Linked DNA regions of Homo sapiens. The protein of the gene in region 1 interacts with the protein of each later gene in a pairwise test. Each region holds a gene or a part of one and is shown in the gene's direction. Other genes may lie near its edges.

The links.
Region 2: the proteins of KIAA1549 (region 1) and SOD2 interact in a two-hybrid assay, tested with the Homo sapiens proteins (one large-scale study listed by IntAct).

What each region holds. Positions count from the first base shown.
Region 1 is NC_000007.14:138,977,530-138,983,445, reverse strand, and holds the start of KIAA1549 (UPF0606 protein KIAA1549), read left to right. Parts: upstream 1-2,056; 5' UTR 2,057-2,176; coding exon 2,177-2,363; intron 2,364-5,916. UniProt on the Homo sapiens protein: May play a role in photoreceptor function.
Region 2 is NC_000006.12:159,676,242-159,679,741, reverse strand, and holds part of SOD2 (superoxide dismutase [Mn], mitochondrial isoform A precursor), read left to right. Parts: 3' UTR 1-3,500. UniProt on the Homo sapiens protein: Destroys superoxide anion radicals which are normally produced within the cells and which are toxic to biological systems.

The sequences.
Region 1 (5,916 bases):
CTCCGCCTCCTGGGTTCAAGTGATCCTCCTGCCTCAGCCTCCTGAGTAGCTGGGATTACAAGCACGTGCCACCATGCCTGGGTAAATTTTTCTGTGTTTTTATTAGAGACGGGGTTTGCCATGTTGGCCAGGCTGGTCTTGAACTCCTGACCTCAGGTGATCTGCCTGCCTTGGCCTCCCAAAGTGCTGGGATTATAGGCGTGAGCCACCGCGCATGGCCGAGGGAGGCTTTTTTCTCTGACACCAACGGGTCTAGTGTAGATGGCAGCTTGCAGGAGGCTGAGGCCAAATCTGAAGATGGAACCTCTTCACGGGCGGAATGCATGCTCTGGCTCAAACCAACGATTGTCTACTGAGGGCTTACTGGGGCTATGAGAAATCCTAAGCAGGATAGCACCATATTTGAATTTCATATTAATTTATTGGAGGTGGGGTGGGGGCTGTGTGTGCAAAGCATAAATTCATAAAAGATAAAACAACACAACAGGACAAGACCATTCAAGAGTTGCACGAAGGCAGTGGTTTGTGGTCAAATGTGCTGTTATAGAGAGTTCAGAGAATAAAGATAAGTGTGTGAATAAGAGGTCCCAGATCTATGGCCATGGTGTCCTGGGACCAGACATATCTGGGCAGTTTCTCTTAGGTACTTACCTGGGTGTGCACGCAGAACCCTCTTTGGGAGACAGGAGCAGTTACTGTAATAAACATAGGGGCTGTATGATGGGGGGTTACAATAACGTGTAAAAACACCAGGAACATCAACAAAAGCTTTTTTTAACCTTTATTCTCATTTTCCTTGAAACTACCAGGTTTCAAGTACCCACCTGTAAGGACCAGGTGTGTACCTACAGAAGAGTGCCCCTGTCCTATTCTTAGGAAGAACTATTCGCCAAGGGCAAGGAGTCCAGAAGAGTTGGAGCTGCAAGGCTGGGCAGCCCCTTCAAGGGCTGGGCCTGGCAGGGGAACCCGACTGAATAGCCGCGAGGATCCCTCTGCCAGTGTAATGATTCACCTTTTCCGCTGTCTGCCATAGTTTTTCTGCACGAGATAGTGTCCCCCACACACACCGTTAATATCTGCTTGATGCAACAATGCCAGTGGGATGCAACGATTCAAAACTTCCAATTCCTCCTCCCTAGACCCTGAAGCCACGGGGCGTCTTCAGAGTGACGTGCCTGGCACACAGTAGGTACTTGACAGATGTCAACTCCCTTCTTCCCGTTCCTCATTCCCCCCGCGGACTCCAACCCTCAAACGCTCTCTGGGCATTCTCTCCACCTCTCAGGAGCGCCACTTTCCCTAAAACGGCCTGGCCTTGCGGGTCTCCCCAGCTCCACGCCCATTCGCTTCAGCAGCCGCCTGCTCAAGGCCTGCTAAGTGCAGGGTCCCGCGGGCCTCCCAGGCCCTGAGCGCAGGGTCGCTTCCCGAAGACCCGCAGAGGTGGCCGCACCTTCTTAAGGCAGGAAGGCGGGGGAGAGCTGCGTGCGCTCTGCTCGCCCCTGCCTTGCACGCTGAGCTCTAGCGCAGGAGCCCGACTTTGTCTGGCTTTGTCCCCTCCGCGGCCCCGAGGCTGTCCTGAGAGCGCGGCGCCCCACACACCTGCTGCCCGCAAGGAGTCGGCGGGAGAGGAGGAGCGAGGGAGGCGAGAGGACCCCTCCCCCGGCTTGCCGGCCTACCCTGATCCGGGCGCCCCGGGGAACGCGCGGCGGGACCCGGGGTTGGGTGCGGGTCGGGGCGGCACCGCCCGGCCCAGGCCCCCCGAGCCCCTCGCGCTCCCTCCGGAAGGCGGGTCCTGGGGGAGGGCTGGGCCGCGCCGCCTCGCCGCCCTTGCCGCCTCTGCCGCGCCGAGCCCCGCGCACGCTGCCCCGGCCGCCCCGCAGGCAGGCAGGCAGGCAGGCAGGCAGGCGTCCGGCCGGCCGGGAGGGGGTGCTCGCCGTCCCGCGCCCGGGCCCGCGCGTTGCCGGGCAGCGGCTCCGAGGCTCCGAAGGGGGCGGAGCGGCAAGGCGGGCGTGCGGCTGGCGCCCCTGTCCTCGGTTCCGGCCCGGCCCGCCCCCGCCTCTCCGGCCTCCCTCCGCGCCGGTGCGCGGCGCCCCGTCCCAGCCGCAGCCGCAGCGGCCGCCCCTCCCGGACCCGAGAGCCGCTGAGCCGCGAGGCCGGGCCGGGGCGCCGGCCGGGAATGCCGGGGGCGCGGCGCCGACGCCGAGGCGCGGCCATGGAGGGGAAGCCCCGCGCCGGGGTCGCGCTGGCCCCGGGGCCGAGCGGCCGACGGCCTTCCGCCCGCTGCGCCCGCCGCCGCCGCCCGGGGCTGCTGCTTCCTGGCCTCTGGCTGCTGCTGCTGGCCCGGCCGGCCTCGTGCGCCCCAGGTAAGCTCCGCCGAGACCCTCGGAACGCGGCCGCGACCCCGCCTGCCTTTATCGCTGCTGTTTTCAAAACCCCGGCTTTCCCCGCCCATCCTCTTTTATTCTCCAGCTCCCTCGCCGTCCTTTCTGGAAGATGCTTTGCCATTCTTCTGGGGCCCAACAAATAAAGGCACGGGGGAAATAAATAATTAAAACGAACAAGCGAGCGGCTTCTGGCCGGTCTTGCTAAGGGGTCTGCAAAGCTGTTCTCTTGTCCATGGAACCCGAAGCGGGTCTGGTGGCTTCATCTCAGAATGTGCCTGGTTTTTCCTGCAGAATGCAGGCACCGGCGTGCTTTTTTGTCAAGGCTGTATGATGTGGCATATCGAATGTTTTGAGATACTTTATTGTCGGGGCGAAGAGGTGGATTCGAGGTGTGCTTTAAAAGAGTATTGCATTACCGGGACAAGCCCAGCGTCCCCCAGATGCGGGCAGGCCGGCCGTGTCCCCCCGTACAGCAGGACACAAAGAACATTCAAAGAAAACCTCTTGGAAAGCGCCCTGGCCACGGATCTTTCCAGGGAAATAGCTATTGGTATTACTTCTGCAAGGCATTATTAGTACAATGGAGTGTGAAAATATTTTGATTCTTAAGTGTCTGGGCATGAAAGGAGTAAGGGCTGTTTTTATAACAGATGCAATTTAGTGACTGTTCATCAGTATGGAATGAAGAGGCATGATTTATGAAGAAGCATAAGGGTTTTGTTGTGGAAGAAATGATTTAATTCCTATTGCTTCTCCAAAATGTTTATTTGTCCACCCTGAGCCTGTACACAGGATGGTCTGGAAACCGTCTCTGAGCTGACACTGCAGGCCAGCGATTGCCCCTGCACAGGCACTTGACCACTTTGAGGCGGAAAAGGAAAGGTGGAAGGAGCAGCTAGGGGTGGAGAGCTGCTGCACACAGAACAAAAACCAGAAAGCCGTGAACGCTGCTCCGAATCCTCCTTTCTCGTGGGAGCAGGGCCAAAGGGCTACTCAGTGGCTGGGAGGAATTGGAACACATTTGAAGGTGTCCCTTGGACCTGTGAGAATTATAACCAGTGCCCTAGAGGGGATGGTACAATAGAAGCACAGGGAGGACTTCAGGGATCATGGAACAGGTCCACTCTGCTTACCAAAGAGGAAACTAAGGCAGAGAAGTGCCTTGCTCAAGGTCACAGTCATCACTTTCCCTGCCTCCCACCCCCGCTCTTGGCCCATAGACATATCCACACCTGAAGCCTCTGCAGAGATTTCCCATAGCTGGGTGGAACCAGGGTTGGGGTGACAGAATGAGTCTCTTTTAGGCAGTATACAGCTAGTGCAAACACCTTACTCTAACCTAGGACCTCCCGTCTCAGTCCTGCTCCTGCGAGTTCCAGCCCTGTGTGTCCAGAGGAGAAGAGATCATTGTCAAGGGTCTCTTGGCTTTAGTCAACAAAGAGAGCCCATCTGATACTCGTGGATTCATCTGTCATAAGACACAGCAGATAAATGGTTTCCATCTCCTGAGTGCTTTTTGTGTGCCAGATGTTGAATTTTATATACACGATCCAATCACGTTGTGAGTTAGGCATAGTTATCCCCATTTTACAGATGAGGAAACTAAGGCTTTGAGTTTAGGTTGGTTTGGCTTCAGACTCTATGACATGCTTCCTTTCTGTGCCTGATGGCTTCCCCATATGAATGTGGCCATCTGGGTGTACTGCAGAGGTTGTGGAGAATATAAGTGCTTCTGGTAACTTTAAAATAAATAGTGAAGCTGTTTGCACTGCCCATCCCTAACCTTCTCTTCTTTGGAAGTCCTTTCCTGCTTCCCCTCTACCCCCAATACAAATATTCAACCTGGAGACATGAAATTAATAATATTTCCATTCTAGACCTGACATCATGGAAAGAGACTTCATCCTTTCACTGGTTTGTATATTGGCTTCAGCCGCTGCCAGGCTCATAGACTAGGAACTAAGAAGTGGAGGGCACAGCCCCTGTGCTCCAGGATCCAGCTGGAAACACAGAGCAGTGAAGGAAGTACAAACCCTTGCACAGACCATTCCCGGACAGGAAAGGCAGGATTCCTTATGGATGACCTGCTGGAGGTGACCCCATCTACTTGAAGACTGTGAGGAACGATCTTGGTGGAGGGTGGCTTCCTGATGTAGCTAGGGTGTGTGTAGGGTGCCTGGGCGGTGCTGTTGATCCTGGGAAGAGGGTGCGTTGCAGTTGCTTGGGCTGCCCTCCCAGTCCTGAGTGTGGTATTTTCACCAGGAGATTTGGAATGTAGGAGAGCTTTGCTGAACACTGCTGTGGTGGTTGGTTCTCTTTCTAAGGAATAAGCAGTGGTAGTCAGAAAATGGCATGGCTTAGACCTGTTTTGGACTTCCTATGTGAGGCAGCATTCCCTTCCGTGGCTGTCTGAAAGCTATCTCCTCCTTCAGCTGGCTTCTCTTGTTAACTTTTGTTCAATAGAGTCCACCTTCCAGGTGGTCCCCTTATTACAGTCTTTGGTTAAATCTCTATGTTAAATCGATTTCTTGTCTATTTGTATTTCATTCAGCATTTTGAGTGTGTTTTTTTAAAAAAAAAATTTACAAGTTTGGTCTTAACCATTGACTGTTGTGGAAACAACTTGTAATGCTTTGGACTTACTTTTGAATGCATTGCTCTTAAGTGATTAGCCATCCACAGTATAAAAACAAAGAATCATGCCCAGTTTCTTCACCTTATTCAGAGATAAGTTTTTAAAAAGTAATAGTTATTATGAAATAGATTGCTTTGTAGGGAATTTGGAAATTACTGAAAGGTACAGAAACCAGTCACCCATAATCTCACAGCCTGTAGGTAACACTAAGTAATTTTATCGTTTTTTTGTTGTTAACATTAAAAAAAGAATTATATGCACAATTGTATTTACTACCATTTCCACTCTACATTTAACTTAAGCATTTTTCCATTCATTAAGTCTTATTTGAAAACTATTTTCTATCCTAATGATTTATTCTTTTATTTCCATTTTTTGGGTTGCTGTAAGTAATGCTGATGAATAGCTACATAGAGAAGGCTCTGCTGGCCATGCGCGCTGGCTCACGCCTGTAATCCCAGCACTTTGGGAAGCCGAGGTGGGCGGATCACCTGAGGTCAGGAGTTTGAGACCATCCTGGCCAACATGGTGAAACCCCGTCTCTACTAAAAATACAGAGATTAGCTGGGTGTGGTGGCATGTGCCTGTAATCCCAGCTACTTGGGAGGCTGAGGCAGGAGAATTGCTCGAACCAGGGAGGCAGAGGTTGCAGTGAGCCGAGATGGCGCCATTGTACTCCAGCCTGGACGACAGAGCAAGACTCCGTCTCAAAAAAAAAAGGCTTTGTGCATGTTTCTTTCCGTGTGTGTGTGTGTGTGTGTGTGTGTGTGTTTTCTTGAGTATACATTTGTGGAAGGGGTATTAGAGTGTGATTAAAATGTAAGGCCCACCAGGCTGGATTTCTGCATCTTTTGTTCAAAATGCTGGGCCCCTAGTAGGTACTCAGTATGTGATTTT
Region 2 (3,500 bases), on another chromosome or scaffold:
GAAAAGAACAAGTATTGTTCATCCAAGAAGGGTTTTTGTGACTGAATCAGCAGTGCCTGCCCTAGTCATAGCTGTGCTTCAAAAACCTCAGCATGATTAGTGTTGGAGCAAAACAAGGAAGCAAAGCAAATACTGTTTTTGAAATTCTATCTGTTGCTTGAACTATTTTGTAATAATTAAACTTTGATGTTGAGAAATCACAACTTTATTGTACACTTCATTGCAACTTGAAATTCATGGTCTTAAAGTGAGATTTGAATTTCTATTGAGCGCCTTTAAAAAAGTAATACCAAACCATAAAGTTAAAATCTATGTATATTGAGTCATATCTAAAACCACGTATAAACATAAATTGTATTTCCTGTTTTAATTCCAGGGGAAGTACTGTTTGGGAAAGCTATTATTAGGTAAATGTTTTACAAATTACTGTTTCTCACTTTCAGTCATACCCTAATGATCCCAGCAAGATAATGTCCTGTCTTCTAAGATGTGCATCAAGCCTGGTACATACTGAAAACCCTATAAGGTCCTGGATAATTTTTGTTTGATTATTCATTGAAGAAACATTTATTTTCCAATTGTGTGAAGTTTTTGACTGTTAATAAAAGAATCTGTCAACCATCAAAGAGGTCTGCATTATGCTTGCATGTCAAAAACTTTAAAAATCCTATAATCTTCTGTCATTTTCACTGAGTTTCCATGGGAAAGGAATAGTAAATAATGGGTAGTTGAAATATTACTCTTAAGACCAAGACCTGTATCTCCAGTCATATCTGTAATAACATCATCTGATAACCTAAAAGCATAGTATTAGGGATATACGACAAAACCAAAGTGTTTTTGCTGTTGTCACATACCACTCAATACTTTTACACCAGGTTGTCCAGTGGACACCAGCTGGATGTCCTATAATTCAATTCTGACACTGTCTACCTGGAATTGGAGTCAGATCCCACAGGTGGAGGGCTCAGCCCACAAGACTGCCCCCACTCCAGATACCAATCGCAAGTCCCTATACTTCTGACTGGCTATAAAGTGGGGTTCCCGTGACCCTTTCCTTGGTTTTGATTTATTTGCTAGAGCAGCTCCCAGAACACAGAGAAACACTCTACTTATGTTTACCCATTTTTAATTTTATTACTTTATTAAAACTACATATTGGTTACAATACTAATTTATTGTAAAGGATATTTCATTTATTTATTTTTTTATTTAGAGATGGAGTCTCACTGTGTCACCCAGGCTGGAGTGCGGTGGCACAGTCTCAACTCACTGCAACCTCCACCTCCTGAGTTCAAGCGATTCTCATGCCTCAGCCTCCCAAGTAGCTGGGATTACAAGTGTGCACCACCATGCCCAGCTAATTTTTGTATTTTTAGTAGAGATGGGGTTTCACTCTGTTGGCCAGGCTGGTCTCAAACTCCTGACCTCAAGTCATCCACCCACCTCAGCCTCCCAAAGTGCTGAGATTACAGGTGTGAGCCATTGCCTCTGGCTTGTAAAGGATATTTCAAAGAATACAGATGAACAGCCAGATGGAAGAGATGCACAGGGCAAGGCATGTGGGAAGGGGTATGGAGCTTTCATGCTCTCTCCACGTCATCAGCTACCCAGAAGCTCATCTGGACCCCGACCCTTTGGGGTTTTACGGAGGCTTCATTATGTCAGCATTACCATTGGCAATTGGCGATTAACTCAACCTTCAGCCTCTCTCCCCTTTCTGGAGGTTGGGGGTTGAGGCTGGGAGTCCAAACCCTCCAATCTTGCCTTGGTCTTTCTGGTAAGCAGCCCCCCGTCCTGAAGCTACCTAGAGGCTCCCAGCCACCAATCATTTCATTGGCAAACCAAAGATACTTCAAGGGGTTTAGGAGCCAAGAGACCAAGCAAGGATTGAGACAATATATATATTTCTTATAAATAACATGATCACAAATAGTATTTTATATATTTCTCATAATAGCTGGTTGTGGTTACTCACACCTATCATCCCAGCTACTAAGAAGCTAAGGCAGGAGGATCACAGGCCCAGGAGTTTGCAGCTGTAGTGAGCTATGATTGTGCTACTGCACTCCAGCCTGGGTGACAGTGTGAGACCCTGTCTCTTAAAGTTCTTGTAACATCTTAGAACATTAACCAACCACAGATTATTGCCTTAACTCTGAAAAATAAAGTAATCATACTTTTACAAGATGTATTTTACATAAAGTTCTGGTGATATTTTACTCTGGTCATTGGAATATAGGAGCTTACCACCTGGTACCACTCTTCCTAAAGTGGTATACTATTTGGTATAGTACTGGCATACTATTTGGAAAGGGATGTGAAGTTGGCATGACCTGTCTAGGGTGAAGTCATGCTGTCTGCTATTCATTGTGGGCTTTACAGTAATGAGAGTGCTTCTGTTGTCAAGATGCTTCTGGGACACGTTAAAAAAAATTTAAGATTTCTCAGTTTGTGAAAAGGAAGGAGCACGAATGCTTTCAAGTTCCTATGACATGCTAGTCATCTTTCAGTGTGTCCCATTGTTGCACCCAGTAGTCTCGATGCCCAGCGTCACGGTGATTCCAAGTTTGCCTCTCTGCCCACTATAATTTGTGCTCCATGAAGTCCCAGGACATGAGGTTCTTGTTCATTTGTGCGTCTGGGCCCATATCCAAATATTAAACAATGTGACTTAATGTATTTATCATATTGTAAATATGGGTATCCCCAAGGCTCAGAAGTTAACACAGCATATCCACAGAGAGGTTTGACAGCATGGCTGTGGTGACTGGGAAGGCCTTATGCTTGCTCCTCCTTCTGCTGCTTGCCTTTGTGTGGGCATGGAAAGAACATTGAATTAGGTACTGGAAGACCTGGGTCCTGGTCTTGGAGATTTTACCAGAGCACCTGTGGGATATTGGTCAAGATGCCTGGTTTTAGTCCTGCTCCTTTGCTGTGAAAGAGGATCTTAAGGTGCCAACTCTGGCATTTTATTTTTTACTTATTTATTTTTAAATTATACTTTAAGTTCTAGGGTACATGTGTACAACATGCAGGTTTGTTACATGTATACATGTGCCATGTTGGTGTGCTGCACCTATTAACTCGTCATTTACATTAGGTATATCTCCTAATGCTATCCCTCCCCCTTCTCCCCACCCCTCGACAGGCCCCGGTGTGTGATGTTCCCCTTCCTGTGTCCAAGTGTTCTCATTGTTCAATTCCCATCTATGAGTGAGAACATGCGGTGTTTGTTTTTTTGTCCTTGGAATAGTTTGCTGAGAAGGATGGTTTCCAGCTTCATCCATGTCCCTATAAAGGACATGAACTCTTCCTTTTTTATGGCTGCATAGTATTCCATGGTGTATATGTGCCACATCTTCTTAAACCAATCTATCATTGATGGACATTTGGGTTGGTTCCAAGTCTTTGCTATTGTGAACAGTGCCACAATAAATATACGTGTGCATGTGTCTTTATAGCAGCATGATTTATAATCCTTTGGGTATATACCCAGT